2 separate regions of the Homo sapiens genome follow, and region 2 is linked to region 1. Evidence: fine-mapped expression QTL. Tissue or cell type: Th1/17 cells. Region 1 holds a variant in brackets; the other region holds the start of a gene. All regions are shown on one strand. Distances are between the middles of the regions.

Region 1 (8,000 bases):
TCAGAATTATATGGATCTCTGAGGTTTTTGAGTACCACTAAAGGAGTATAGTGTTTGAGTCAAAAAACCTGAGACCAAATATGAGCTCTGCCCTTTTAGAACGTAACTTTCCTTTTTCAGAGCTGAACCAAGTTTCAACTTACTCATCTGTGAAATGCCTATAATACTCTACCTATCTCTAGGAATGCCTTGAAGGTCAAAAATCGTAACAATAATGGGGGACAACTGTGGTTCAGTGGAAAGAATATTAGAATAAAGTTAGATGATCTGAGTTCAAGTTTCACATTATCCTAACCCACTTCAGTGAACAACTGAGGCTGATTCCATCTAAACTGTCTGAATCTCATTTTTATCATCTGAAAAAATATTCACATTTTTAAAGAGTTGCTTTAGGAAGAAAAGAGACTAGGACCCACTTCTTCTCAAGCCAAGCCAGTGTCATTTAGACTACAACAGGTTGTAAGAGTGGCCTGAGGCAAAAAAGAGAACACTCTCTCCATGAAAGAGGCATCCTCTACCTAGCTCTGGAGGACCGTGGCCATGTAGAAATGCAAGCGTAGGGCTGCCAAATCTTCCATTTTCCTACCTAAGCACTGAATCCACATTTCTATGTGAAATCCTTCAGTTGTTAGAGTTGGCAATTAATTCAATTTTTTAAAAGCATTTGATGGCTGGCCGGGCGCGGTGGCTCACGCCTGTAATCCCAGCACTTTGGGAGGCCGAGACAGGCGGATCACGAGGTCAGGAGATCGAGACCATCTTGGCTAACACGGTGAAACCCCGTTTCTACTAAAAATACAAAAAATTAGCTGGGCGTGTTGGCGGGCGCCTGTAGTCCCAGCTACTCGGGAGGCTGAGGCAGGAGAACGGCGTGAACCCAGGAGGCGGAGCTTGCAGTGAGCTGAGATCGCGCCACTGCACTCCAACCTGGGGGACACAGCGAGACACCATCTCAAAAAAAAAACAAAAAAAGCATTTGATGGCCCTAGAGAACATGCCTACAGACAGGTTACATAAGAATATCTGCATCCTTTCTAAGGTAACAAGGAACAGTTACCACCATCCTAAGCAACCTAAGGGGATCTTGAATATTTTTGATAACTTGGTGAAAACTAGAGGCCTCCTTTCAAGGAAAATGCATCAGAACAAACAGTTAGTGCATGTGGGGCTTCATACCTAGGTGATATATTGACAGGTGCAGCAAAACCACCACGGCACACATTTACCTAGGTAACAAACCTGCGTGTTCCACACATGCATCCAGGAACTTAAAGTAAAATTAAATTAAATACAAAAGACGAAGAAGATAGGTCTAACATGATTCTAGAGCTTCAAGCCCAGGTAACTACAAGACTGTAGTTTCATTCGCATCACCAGATGAGAGAAATCTTGTTTGGGAAGATAAGAAAGGAACAGGGAGATGACACAGAGCTGGAAGAGAGAAAGAAAAAAATGAATAAACTAAAGTGTAATATGCTTCAGTTGTGTAAGGGGTTTGACAGAGGACAATTTTGCCCTATAATTTCTAGAACATTACCCAAGGGACTAATGATAGTGAGTATCTATGGTGGAGAGGGGCAGTGCTGGCAGAGGAGGCACGCAGGTGGAAGGGAGACTGTTTTCACTATATTTTGATACTTGTTTTAAACCATGTGAATTACTGTCTAGTCATGACGACCAAAACAAATTAACTAATAATAAAAATCTGATGCTCTCCCTCCCTTCACCTCCCAACCCCCGACAGGCCCAGGGATGTGTGACGTTCCCCTCCCTGTGTCCATGTGTTCTCATTGCTCAGCTCCCACTTGTGAGTGAGAACATGCAGTGTTTGGTTTGCTCTTACTGTGTTAGTTTGCTGAAGATGATGGCCACACTGTCTTCCACAATGGTTGAGCTAATTTATGCATATTATACTTTTTTTTGTTTTTTTATTTGAGACAGAGTTTTGCTCTTGTTGCCCAGGCTGGAGTGCAGTGAGGTGATCTTAGCTCCCTGCAACCTCCACCTCCCTGGTTCAAGCGATTCTCCTGCCTCAGCCTTCCAAGTAGCTGGGATTATAGACGCCCACCACCATGCCTGGCTAACTTTTTGTATTTTTAGTAAAGACAGGGTTTCAGCAGGTTGGCCAGGCTGGTCTCGAACTAGGTGATCCACCCGCCTCAGCCTCCAAAAGTGCTGGGATTACAGGCCTGAGCTACCATGCCCAGCCTGCATTTTATATACAGACTTACTTGTTTTCACTTCATGTATTATGGAGGGATTTCCACGCTATTATATGAAGATATTCAATACCATTTTTCTGTGGCTGCACAGTATCCTATGGTATTGGCAATAAAGCATTATGTATTTAATTAGACACACATTGATTACATTGTTTCTAATCTTTTCTTATTAAAACCACAGCTGCAATTAAAAAAAAATACACCTTTGGTTACATTTTACTTTCTTCCTGCTTAAATTGCCTTATCTGAAAATGAAGATACTATCAGTCCCACCTCACAGAGTTTTTTAAAGAATGAAATACATGAAAAATATGTAAAATTCTTAGTTCCAGAAACCAGGTAAATCCTCAGCAAGTGTTAGATGTGATTGCTATTATGAAATGGGTCATCTCTTATCTACGCAAGTATATCTGTAGAATGCATTCCAAGCAGTAGAACTGCCAGGAGATTTAAAAGGAAACGGGAAAGTAGGTATTAATGTGGAGGTCCCAGAAAATTGGGGGAAACCAACATGGGAAATGAAGCAGCCATTGGCTTACCAGGGACAGAGGTTGAAGGTGTCCCAGAAGCCACATCGCAATAGGGACTTGAGAAGTCTGTGAGTCCTATCTGGTGAAAGGGTCCCCTGAGCTACACTGGGAATGTGAGCACGCCTCCCAGACTAACATTCTCCTCTGTTGTTCTAATCAACCAGCAATGTGTCTAGGAAAGGCCAAATTCTTGGCAGCCAAACTACATTTCCCAGATTACTTCAGTCCTGGAAGAAACAACAAAAACTATGCCAGGTCACATGTCTCCATTTTCAGGACTGGAAAATGAGGGCATAGATTTGTGGCTCTAATCCACAGAGGGAAAGTTGAGAAAAGGACGTGGAGAAAGGGTGAGTCAAAGCAAGTGAATGACCAGACAGTGGCCAACATTTCCAGACTCCAAAAGGGCAAGCAATATTTGCATATACCAACACTGGGTCTGCAGCAGGGGGCCCCAACCCTTGGGCAGCAGACCGACCCTAGTCCGTGGCCTGTTAGGAACCGGGCTGCAAAGCAGGAAGCGAGTGACAGGCAAGCGAGGATTACCACCTGAGCTCTGCCTCCTGTCAGATCACTGGTGGCATTAGAATCTCATAGGAGAGTGAACCCTATTGTGAACTGTGCACGTGAGGGATCTGGGTTGCACGCTCCTTATGAGAGTCTAACTACTGCCTGATGATCTCAGGTGGAACAGTTTCATCCTGAAACCATCCCCACACCACCCTCCTGGTCCGTGAAAAAATTGTCTTCCACGAAACCGGTTCCTGGTGCCAAAAAGGTTGGGAACC[G/A]CTAGTCTATACTCACCTGGACCAAATGCGTATTTAGTGCAAAACAAGGAGGTCTTCAACTGCTGAGGGAATTGGGTTCTAAGAAGTGGCTAAGAGCTAACAGGTAGGCTAAAGAGCTAATAAAACCAAATCCCTGAGCTCAGATAAAAAGTAAGAATAACCTTTGTCCATCAGTGTCTTCATTTGCCTATTGCAAGATGGATGTTAGGACTTAGAGTTGGCAGGATATAAGTATATTTTCACACTTTGGGAGGCAGAGGCGGGCGGATCACGAGGTCAGGAGCTCGAGACCATCCTGGCTAACACAGTGAAACCCCATCTCTACTAAAAATACAAAAAATTAGCCGGGCGTGGTGGCGGGCACCTGTAGTCCCAGCTACTCGGGAGGCTGAGGCAGGAGAATGGAGTGATCCCGGGAGACGGAGCTTGCAGTGAGCTGAGATTGCGCCACTGCACTCCAGCCTGAGCGACAGAGGGAGACTCCGTCTCAAAAAAAAAAAAAAAAAAAAGTATATTTTCAAATTTTTTGGCCTACTTTCACCCCCCACCTCTATTTCACCTCTACCCAAATCTCATCAAAACAAGCAAAAAAGAGCACTTTGACCACTCACTGGGAAGAATTCCAACTGCAACAGTTTACAAAGAAAACCAACATAAATTTCACTTGAATGTGTTACGCTGACCTCCCAAAATCCATCTCAGCTAATTAAAAGAAGCTGCAGAGCAGTTCCTATGGATATTAGCATTCAGGTCCTTTAGGAGCATGTTTACGTGGCACATCACCTTGCTGGGAGGCTCCCAGTACCCTGGGCTGAAGGCATCAATTCTCACTGGCAACGGCACGGCCGCAAGAGTGTGATCGCAGGCTCTGTGGAACCTCATGAAATGTTTAAGGACTCTCTTGGCTCACATCTCACTCTTCCTCACTCTACCCCATCTCAGGCTTCACCTTCTCCCCTTGCTAGAAGCCACTTCCGTGGCAGACGCTCTGGGTGCCAAGGTTTACAGTAACACCCCAATGGGACAGCAAGATTAATGAAAGCTTTCTGTGGGTAATTCAACTCTGTTCAGTAATATGACACTGAGAGGACAACAGGAGCTTGCAGGAAAGAAGAGGGGTAAGGAAATGGGAGAGCCATCAAGATGTGCACATGAAAACCTGTTTGCAATGTGGGAAGGACTCATCTGGTCAGCTATGGCTATTTGTCAGCATAGCATAGCAGCCACTTCACCATGAGAAAGTGTTATATGCAAACGACACCTCCTCAAAGAGGCCCTCACAGACTACCACAGCCAAATCCTCTCATATCTCTTTTCCCTGCCTGACATTAAAAGTGTACTCCCTCTGCTGCTTTGTCTGTTACCGACTTCCCGGTCCAGAATGGAAGCTACAAAGAGGCAGGACTCGTGTCTGTCTCATAATACTCCATTCCCCAGCCACTTAAAGTGAGCCTGGAACGTAGTAGGCACCCACTAACCTTATGAACACCAGTGAATGACTAGCTGGAATTCTGCAATAGCTTTTAATTTTAAAATGTGCCTACAAAATCCATCAAAATCCATTTTCCATTACCATATTAGGGTATGAAGAGGGGAAAAAGTATCGAGTAAATACTGGATCTGAGTCACCATGCCTGGCATTTTATACATAATAGTCACTTAATTTCTAGGACTCTCTGAGGTCGGCATGACTAATGCTATTTCAGATTAGGAAAACTGAGGTTCACAGATACAAACACAACTCACCCAAAGTCGCATATGTGGAAAGTGATCATTTCTGGTTTGTCTGATCCAAAATTCCCTGCATCTGTCACTCCCCACCCTGATCGCTCTCTGGCTCCTAAGGCTTTCATTTGGTTTTCCCAAGATCGGGCTCCCCTGTGACATGTCTCCATGACAAGCCGTTAGTATTCACTCAGAGACAAATTCCAAACGCATCTTTGATCTCACTACTTCAAGGAATCCCTTTAGTCACTTAGAAATGGAAACAGTCTGTTTTTATAAATGGCTCAGGAAGGGAGGACAGTCATCGCAGGCAGAGTCCTACAGAGAGCGCGAGAGAACATGGGAAGCAGCCGACCACTGGTGCAAGGAAGGGGCTCCCAGCAGCAGCAGCAGGAGGAGCCCCAGGGACCAACTTGGGAGAGGTTTGTTCTCAGATCCAGTGCTCCCTTTCTTCACACAGCAAGAACTACCACCACGGACGTGTCTCCTTTCTTTAAAGTGCTTTGTTATCATTTACTAATAAAGGAAAACTCACAGACCCAGGCCTTCAAAAGCTCTCGCCAAAAGTAGGGAACCCTCAATGAAGCGCAGGCCAGATGCCAGTTTTCGGTGCAAAGCGATCCTGTGATCATCAAGAATTTAGAAGCCTTGCTGAAAGTTTCCACTGCACACAGAAGACCACACAGGACAGAGTTTCTTCCACGGGGCTAAGGCCTAATTCCCGAAGAAGCCACTGCGGCTTCCTAGTTTGGCACAGGTGTCAAAAGCCACTTTTGGATTGACCCTTTTTGTCCGGGAAGGTGAAGCTTCCTAAGGCTAGATGGAACAAGCTGCTGGTGCAGTGTCTGCCTCCCCAAGCCAAAGAGCAGATTTCCACAAGGCCACCCGACAAGGCAGTCTCTAGGACAGAGACCAGGCCCAGATAAAAGGCTTTAGCCTTGGCAGCACAGTGCACTAAGAACAGGCCTCCAGGGTGGAGACACCTGGCTGAAATTCCAGCTCTGCGTCTCACTGCTGTTTGACCTGGGGCTGTGCACATCACATCTCTATCAGTTTCCACATCTTTAAAATGGGGCTGATAAAAATAACTACCTCTCAGGGCAGCCTGCAACAATGATGCATGTAAATTGCCTGGCACATAATGGACATTCAATCTAACATTAACCAAAACATTATTATTTTTCTCACAAAAAAGACCCCAGGAGGTTCTGTTGTTCCATTTTCTAACTCACCCTTATTGCTCTGACTGTAATCATACCCAAAATAAAAGCCTTTTCCTAAATTTGTTGTAGCAGAATGGTGGCCTGATTCTTTCTATCGTTAGTAAGGCAACTAACTGGCTCTCACTCCTTCGTCTCTAAAATTAAGCAAATGAAAACATGCATAATGTGGGTGAAGAAAAGGTGAACTACTTCTATGTGTTCACTGATGTTTTTTTTTTCTTTGAGACAGAATCTCTCTCTGTTGCCCAGGCTGGAGTACAGTGGCACAATCACAGCTCACTGCACCTCAACATCCCAGGCTCAGGCGATCCTCCCACCTCATCCTCTCTAGTAGCTGGGATTACAAGCATGGGCCACCACACCTGGCTACTTTGTTGTTGTTGTTGTTGCTGTTGTTGAGACAGAGTCTCACTCTGTCACCAGGCTGGAGTGCAGTGGCGCAATCTTAGCTCACTGCAATCTTCATTTTCTAGGTTTGAGCAATTCTCCTGCCTCAGCCTCCCAAGTAGCTGAGATTACAGGAGCCCGTCACTGCGCCCAACTAATTTTTGTATTTTTAGTAGAGACGGGGTTTTACCATGTTGGCCAGGCTGGTCTCAAACTCCTGACCTCAGATGATCCACCCGCCTCGGCCTCCCAAAGTGCTAGGATTACAGGCATGAGCCACTGGGCCCCTTAGTACAGGGGCTAGAGTAGGTAAGCCATTCACTCTCTTCCCCAAGAGGACAGCAGAGACCCAAGAATGAGACAGAACAGAATGTGGCACATAGAAAGGATGGATGGACTTGGAGTCAGAAGTCAGAAAGTACGATCATACAATCTGAAAACCCACTACCCACATACAGGGTTGCTTGATTTTAGCAAATGAAAATACAGGATACCTGGTTAACCTTGTATGTCAGATAAACAACGAATTTTCTAGTATACTATGGTCCACTATTTTTAAATGTAAGTATGTTCAAATATTTCATGGGATATACTTATACTAGTCATTATTTATATGACAATCAAATTTAACTGGGCCTCCTACATTTTACCTGGCAACTCTTGTCATGTAAAGATCTTAAATCTACCTTGATGCAGTAAAAAGAATATGGATTTTGGAGTTAAGTTGAACTGCGATTGAATCCTGGCTCACTACAAGCTCAATGTGTAATCCTAGCTAGTTATCTGAACTGCCTGAATCTTGCTTTACATATCTGTAAATGGCAGTGATAACACCTCACAGGGCTGTGCTATAGGTTAAATAAAGATAATGATGATGGCGATAATAATTACTAATATTGACAGTTTCATTTATTAAGTGCTCAACAAATGTTAGCCTTCTTTGCTCTTTGAGCCTCAAAGATTTCCCATCTACAAAATGGGGTTAAAGATATTGGTAATAAAATTCAAATATGTTTTCTGATAAGAATAAGGATACTTCAGCCTTCCTCCCATGGATTTCTGGGAAAAAATCTCAAGAATTTATTTTCTTTGGGTCTGCAAAATATCCCCTTTATCCCACCCAAA
Region 2 (8,000 bases), 610 kb after region 1:
CGTACCCTGTTCTGTGGCGGGAAAGCATACCTGTAAGCTGCCCATAAATGCAAAGCATGGGTCACAAGCAGACTAGGAGACATAAATAGGATGTTGCAAATAAACTAAGAAGAAAACATAACACAGGGTAGTTACAAAACAATAAACAAAGGGCACCTCTTTTTCATCTTAAACACACGGCTGCAGGTTCAGCAAAGTGAATGAGTGAACTACTTGCTAGTAACACTTTTACAAATTCAAGTTTACTTAAGAAAAAGTTACACATAGTAAAAAACCTTCTAATTTGTTACTAATTAGAAAAACTGGCTGGCATGAATAAGTGAAAATTCAGGATATAAAACACATGCCAAATAGTATAGCTTTTCCTAAGAGAAGGGATGAGAGTACAAGTGATATTTACTTAGGATGCAGGTTCCAGACACCCTTCTAGAAGCCCTCTCCTTTATTTAATCCTCACAATGAGCAGGGCACGGTGGCTCACTCCTGTAATCCCAGCACTTTGGGAGGCCGAGGCGGGCGGATCACGAGGTTAGGAGATGGAGACCATCCTGGCTAACATGGTGAAACTCTGTCTCTACTAAAAGTACAAAAAAATCAGCCGGGCGTGGTAGCAGGCACCTGTAGCCCAGCTACTCGGGAGGCTGAGGCAGGAAAATGGCGTGAACCCGGGAGGCGGAGCTTGCAGTGAGCCGAGATCGCGCCACTGCATTCCAGCCTGGGCGACAGAGCAAGACTCCGTCTCAAAAAAAAAAAAAAAAATCCTCACAATGTTCCCAGGAGGAAAGCAGTAGTGAGCCCATTTTTTCCAGATGTGGAGACTAAAGCTTAGAATGTTAAGCAATTCGAACTGTATTTTCTATTCCAGTTCCTCTGGCAAAACTCCTTATTCTCTGAAGCAGCATTTCTCAATAAGTTGGGTAAACTGATCATTACTTGGCCATGGCTTGGCCTCGTTATACGGGATGGCCATGCGCTGCAGGACATTTATTATCTGTGGCCATGGGCACAAAATACCAACAGCAGCCCCCAGCAGCAGTTCCTACATATCCCAAATGTGTCCAGGGACAATGTCACCCAGCAGTAGAGGTAAACTGTTCTAAAAGATTTTTTGGGCATCAAGACAAAAGACTGAAGAGAAGGGCACTTCGAGGTGGGCAGATCACGAGGTCAGGAGATCGAGACCATCCTGGCTAACATGGTGAAACTCCGTCTCTACTAAAAATACCAAAAAAATTAGCCAGGCATGGTGGCGGGTGCCTATAGTCCCAGCTACTTGGGAGGCTGAGGCAGGAGAATGGCGTGAACCTGGGAGGCGGAGCTTGCAGTGAGCTGAGACCGCGCCACTGTACTCTAGCCTGGGCGACAGAGCAAGACTCTGTCTCAAAAAAAAAAAAAAAAAAATCTCCCATCCTCAAATCTGTCAGAAATCCCTTATTGTATCACATTTAGGCTTCCAAGAAAGCCCCATGTACCCTTATAGAACCAGTTACAAAACCTCCATGAATATATTTGCCATGCAATTCATGAGCATTGAGTACCTATTATGGGCAAAGTACTGTGCTATGAGCTAGGAATATAAAGTCCAAGTCTAACCCCCAAGGGGGTTAGAGTCTAGTAAGAGGCAGATTAAGTATGATAAGTATTAAGATAAATGTGAGCAGGAGGCACTTCCCATAGACTGGAAAGAGTGCTGAGAAGGCAGAAGAAAAAGGAGGGCTGGGACAGTTTCCCAGAGGAAGTGACATTTTCCCAAAGGCTTGAAAGACCAAGTAGGAGTAACCAGGAAGGGACTGGTCCAGGCTGATATCTTTGCAAAGACCAAAGATAGGAATCATATTTGAAGTTAAAGTTTAAAATACTTCCTTCATTCTTTGAGACCTCATTGTGATTCAAACTCAGGATCTCCTGTTTACTAGACAGGTACTTTAACCAAGTCACTAGAAAATAAACTCTCCATAGTCCACATGTACTTCCTTCCTAAGTTCTTGTTTTTGTAAAGTCTGGCTTCACTGGTGTAATCACCCATCACGCAAGAAATAAGACAAATTTATACTTCTTACAGGGAACAAGAAATTGTTTTCGAGAACAGTGTGGACTAGCAACAAAGAGGAGTGTCCCTGTCTTGGGGACACAGGAGTGGTGAAGACGAGAGATCATAATCAGTGTCACCTGATGGGTGACATAGAACGGACACTTAAGGAGTAGGTCAACATATCCTTGGTCTCAAGCTCAAGATGAACTTTATCTCGGCTTTTGTTTTGTTCTTTGGCATCTGAAGTCTTGACTATCAAGCATAACGATGCAAAAAAAAAAAAAAAAAAAAAAAAAAGATTCTCACCCTACTGGTACATTTGCACAGAAAAGAAAACCTAGAAAAATCTTGATTGTAAGAGAGAGAGAGGATTTCATTTTTGTTAATAAAGTTAGGAAAGCTGGAAGTGGCTGGCTGTGGATCTCTGAACCTGAGATAGCCCAAAGGCAAGAGTTTCCCGAGTTTATGGGTGCTGAGTATAGGAGCTGGGTTGTTGCTACTTCAGGTTGTTAAGACAGTCGTTATAAGGGGAGCAAGAGTCAGATTAGTTCAATTTCTTTCTCCTGGGGCAGGGAGGAGAGGGAGCAGCAAGCCAGCCTCGTGGCCTTCTCGTCTCTAGCCTACAAGGAATAGGCTGATTTCCCCTTGGCAAGGCGCCTGAAGCAGCTGGCAGGCAAGCCCTCCTCTTCCTACTTCAGTACGCCCTCTGACCTGACTGCACTCAGAAACCAAAATTCTGCAGGTGAATGTAGGCTCCCATTTCGTCCCACAATCATTTCATCATTCAGGCACAGCTTGACCTCTAATGTGACATCACAAACCCTTCCGGTCCACAGTTTTTTTTTCTTCTTCAGAAACTACCTAAACAAGGAAGTTTGTGTTCCAAGGTAAGATAACCTGAAATGAAAAACTCAGGATCCCTCACGAACAGCCTGACCCTGCTTTCAACCAGGAAGTTCAAGGGAGGCAGGACTTTACGGTCAAAACTGCAAAGCCGAAGCTCAAGACTGTAAGAAGAAAGTGATCTTCAAAGAAAAGGATTCACCCAAATCGAAGAGGTTGTTGCACTTCTTTTCCCTGGCTGATTACATTTCATGTCTGTAAACTTTGCTAAGCCCGGGGCGCTGGCTGTATAAGCAGAGACAGGTGTAGGGACACCTCTACCCTCTGGGTACATCTGCGGCCGCCGCTGCTGGGTGCATAGGACGAAGGGCCCTCGACCCAATCCCAGTCCAAGCTTCCGGATGACGCACCTGGGCTGGGGACCTCTCCCACGTGAGGGGGGCCAACCAAGCATCCCCAGCCCCGGGGCCACCCAGCCTGCTCCGGAGGGAGGGGGCAGGGAAAAAGGGCATCTCGGGGCCAAAACCTCATGCCGGATCCTCCGGCTTTCCCCCCATTTCCAGGATATCGTTTCGCATCAGGGACACTCGTCTCCACACCTCCTACCTCAAAGTCCTACGCACCTACCCTTCACGTCTCTCCAAAGCAACTGAATTAAAGCGCCTACTGGCCTTGGCGGCGCAGGTGAGTGCCAAGAGGTGGAGGAGGAAGGGGCCCGCTCTCCGCCACCCCCTTTCCTCGCCTCCCCACGATCGCCAAGCTTCATCGGGGATGTGTGCCTTGGGGTGCGCGGGTTAAGAGGGAGCTTAAAAATGCCCCAAGCGTCCCTTACCTTCCACAGCCATTCTCTCAGAGCTTCCCTAACGCATGCATAATTTTCTTGGCCGAGGTACTCCTCCTGCCCCGCGCTCCCCCCTTCCTCTCGCTTTCGCCTAAATATTCTGCGCTTATCTGCTCCAGGACCAACCTGCCGCGGTCACGCAAAGCGAGGCAGCCGGCTCCCGGCTCGGCGCGCGCAGGGCGTCCTGGGAAGTGTAGTTCCCTCCCTTCGCTCGGACTGGGGAGAGCACCCCGACTCCTCCGCGGAGTGCCGCCTGGCCCCGACACTTGGAGAGCAACTCCAGCTTCAGCTGGCCAGGCCGAGCAATCTCTCCTGGGGAAGTTGTGAGGGGACCAGGGATGCCTGGTTGTGGCGGGGCGGGGGGGGAGGGGGGGGGGGTTCCCGGGAAGCGGTCTGGACTACATCTCCCAGGAGGCCGTGCGCTGAGATAGGTTCGCTGCTAAGAGTAGGGACCCGTGATTGAGCCCTTCCCTGTCCATTACAAGGGGTTTGGCACCTAGCAGGTGTGGTGAGGTGGGCAGGTGACGGTCAGCTGTGTGATGAGCTCCTGCGAGCTCGTCCGTGGGCCTCTGCCGCCGGTACCGCCCCGCCCCCTGGCCTCCTGAACCACCATTTAGTAGGGAGAGCAGGACCACTGTCCTCCTGTGTGGTTCTCCACCTGGGCCAGAGAACGCTGCCCAGGGTGAGGTTGAAACTTGTTCCTTCGCACCCTGAGATGTATGGGTTTTGTGGGGGAATTCCGACGGTTGATACAGTTGTCTTATCCTACAGGGTGGTTCAGGTGGCTAAATACTTGGCATGGGGGTGTAGGGGAGGAGGAGTGGCTTAAACCCCAATAGGCAACGTCCCCAAGGGGTTGTTAGGAACAAAGTCTGGGAGCCAGGATTGCACCGGAGGAGGTCAGATGAAAGCCTGTCTGGCTTCCAGGATAGGAGGCTTTCAATTTGCCTAGACTTGGAGCCTGTTGACAGCCTGTGATAGGGCCTAATAATTAACAGTGCCTGAGAATCAGGTTCCTTCAACTTCTGAACCTATGTCCTAGCTGTAGGTGCTGGGGATGCTATAAGCAGACATGATAATGGGAATCACGTGGATAGCAATACAATTCGACAGCTCGTAAAAATTAAGTTTCTAAACATTTTTTCCTGCGTGTGAAAATACGGATACAGTTGTGGCTGGAAGGGGTAAGGGAATAGCCTCGGGAATAAATCTGGCTCAAGACTGGATTGACTTTTAAAGGCCTTCAGTTTACAAATGTATTTGGTACCACATCCACCCAGTCACTCATATATAATGTTAATCTCTGTAAAATGAGGAAGTACAAAAATCGGATTCTTCCCATGATGACTACTTAGACATTTTTGTGTGTCTTGGTCATCAGCAAAAAAAAAAAAATGTTTTTCAAAACAATTTCGTTTCTCAGTGTATACATGCACACCTGTTGTTCTGGTCACTAATTACATGCTTAGTTCCCCTACTGGGTAATATATAATAATAATATGTGTATAGGTACTTTAAAAAATACCTGCGTGTAACCATTAAATGCTCTTGTTGATACTTTAATTCTGAGTCCATGGAGCTGTGTACAAGTCAAACCTAAGCCTCTCTTTTAGGTACAGTAGAGAGAGACCCATTCAGTGAGACATAATTTCCATGGGAAAAAGAATTTTCCGACCTAATACACAGCCAAGCATTCTAAACTCTGGAAAGAACTGAAATCCAGGTGCTTCACTACTTTATGTATATAAAATCACCAAAGTGTTAAGTATTTTCTGAGATTGAATGAATGTGAAAGAAAGCCATAGGACAGGTAGTATCAATGGTTCTCAACCTTGGCTGTGCATCAGCCTTCTACAAATATATATTCCTAAGCTTTTATCTTAGTCTCACAGAATCAGAGCTTATGGGGGTTTGGGTAGAGGCACTCAGGTTTTAAAAACCCACAGGTGATTCCAGTCTTCATTGAGGGTGAAAACCATTGGTCTGGTTCCAAGCTTTTAAATATCTGGGTGATATAAAAATATAAAAGTCATTGAAATCTGTGGTTAATTTTAAAACTTCATCTTAGCTCATCTTTAATATTTTTCCCAGTGATGTGCATTCTAGACGAGTTTTATTTTTAGTATAAATAAAATGTGAAGGAGATGTTAGTTTCTACCATATGAAATAGCCAATGTTTGACCATTTTTAAAACCTACAAATAGAACAATTTCATGTGGTTCTGCCTAATAAGGGATAAACAATAGTTGCGCAGAGGTTTTCAATTCTGGCTGAACATTAGAATCACCTGGGAAGTACTAAAAAAAAATTACATTTATCTCTAGAATGTTTGAAAGATAAAGACACAAAATACCAACCGTTGGCAAGATTGTGAAGCAATAAAGATTTATATATTGCTGGTGGTGTGCAAATTCACAAAACCACTTTGGAAAACCATCTGAAATATTCAGCTGAATATATGCTTATCCTGTGACCCAGAAGTTCTACTCCTAGGTTTACACCAAACAAATATGCATACAGATGTTCTCCAAAAGACATGTGCAAGAATGTTTGTGGCTGCATTATTTTAATGTTCCCAAATGGAAAACAACTCAAATATTTATCAACACAGATTGGAGAGATGAACTGTGGTATAACCAAATAATTCCATATAGCAGGGGTCAACAAACTAAGACCAATGAGCCAAATATGGCTCACCATTTATTTCTTATAACTCACCAGCTAGGTGTGATTTTTACATTTTTAAATGGTTGGAAAAAAAACAAAAAAAGTATAATTTGCAAAGCCTGGAAATTATAAAGACATACTTACATAATATCCTCAATTTTGCCTCTTGTCCTACAAAGCCTCAAATATTTCCTACCTGATCCTTTGCAGAAAAAAAGCTTTCCAAACCCTCCTATAAAGTAATGCAAATGAAGGAATTACAATTGTATACAACAACATGATGAGCCACATGTATTAATCGATTGCTGTTAACAAATTATCCCAATATTTAGTGGTTTACAACAATACCCATGTATTACTTCAGTTTCTGTGGCTCAGTAATTTGGGCACAGCTTAGCTTCTGCTTTAGTATCTTTCACAGACTGCAATCATGACTTATTTTTGGTCTTTTTTATCAGCAGCCAAGTACAGTTCCTAACAGATATACCCAATTTTAGCAAGGGGCAAAGTCCAGACCTCATCCCATACCTCTCATAAGCCAAATTCTGTGTTCATTATGATGCTATTGTTTGTTCCTTATAGTATATAAGCACTTCGAGTGCTGGAACTGAGTCTTATGCTTCATATCTTCCAGATTCTTGGTCATAATTGTGGTTACATAGTAAGTACTCAATAGATAATTTATTACTACTATTTTTTTATCCTTGTTATAAGTAGCATTTGTTGGGAAATTACAAGTGCCAAGCTCTGTCTAAGCATCTTGACATACATCATCTCCTTTAATCACTACAATATTGTCAGATATCACTATTTTCCAGATGAGGAAATTGAAGCTCAGTGAATTTAAGTAATTTGCCCCATGTCTCCAAAACATGAATTGTAGCAAGGGGATTGAGGTCTACCTAAGTGTAGAACTCTGTGATGTTACTCCATCTAGATTTCAATACTGATTACGTGATCACAAATCTGAATTCATAAGCACTTGGCCAAATAGGAATTGTCATTACTAATAAAATGAAGGGTTTAAAATATTTTAATATCAGAAATTGTGATATTTAGAATGATTCAAAAATTTCTGAATATATCAGAGAGCACAGAAAGGGAAGGAAAAGCCCATTACCTTATAGTGAATTAAATAAAAAAAGAAATATTGAGATGAGGCTACAGATTTCACTGGATTCTAAGATTTAAAATAGTACATATAAGTACTTTACTGTATTTATTGTTCTAACTCGGTTGCTATATTCACAAGCCTCTACAGAAAACATTCATAAATCTCAAAAAGTAAATAGATTATGTTTCTATTCTGTTCAGGGAGATCTTCTAAACCTAACCAAAAGGATTCAAACCCTAAAAAGTAAAATTTTTGACAGGAGGAACTGAGAGGAAAAAAATAATTTTTTTGTAATTAAGATAAAAAATACTAACTCTAATCCTTGAGTCATGAATAAAGTGCCAACCATTCAAGTTATATCAGGCTTCCATTGGAGGAAGTAAGCATATTTCAGGGAACATGATTTAAGCAAAAGCCTAGTTGTTTTTGCTTAAATCACATTGTGCATAATTAAATCGCATTGTGTGTTATCTGTTTGTTGATAAGTTGGTGATATTCTATAC

What was found. PIP is the estimated chance that this variant, and not a neighbour inherited with it, causes the effect.
Region 2: it holds the start of SAMD12, and the variant in region 1 is fine-mapped to the expression of SAMD12 in Th1/17 cells (Schmiedel 2018, PIP 0.95).

The regions. Positions count from the first base shown.
Region 1 is chr8:118,006,343-118,014,342 of GRCh38, forward strand. All of the region lies in intron 1 of EXT1 (exostosin glycosyltransferase 1), which reads right to left. Among named protein-coding and RNA genes, the nearest start is that of SNORD168, 89 kb to the left of the region's middle. The variant G/A (reference allele first, on the strand shown) is at 3,541.
Region 2 is chr8:118,618,097-118,626,096 of GRCh38, forward strand. It overlaps SAMD12 (sterile alpha motif domain containing 12), which reads right to left and starts at 3,867. Exons shown (of 4, transcript NM_207506.3): 1 at 3,708-3,867. The coding sequence starts at 3,720. SAMD12-AS1 (SAMD12 antisense RNA 1) reads left to right here and starts at 2,905. Exons shown (of 5, transcript NR_038210.1): 1 at 2,905-3,090; 2 at 3,439-3,559. RefSeq lists enhancers at 2,860-2,909, 2,940-3,149, 3,760-3,959 and a silencer at 4,060-4,209.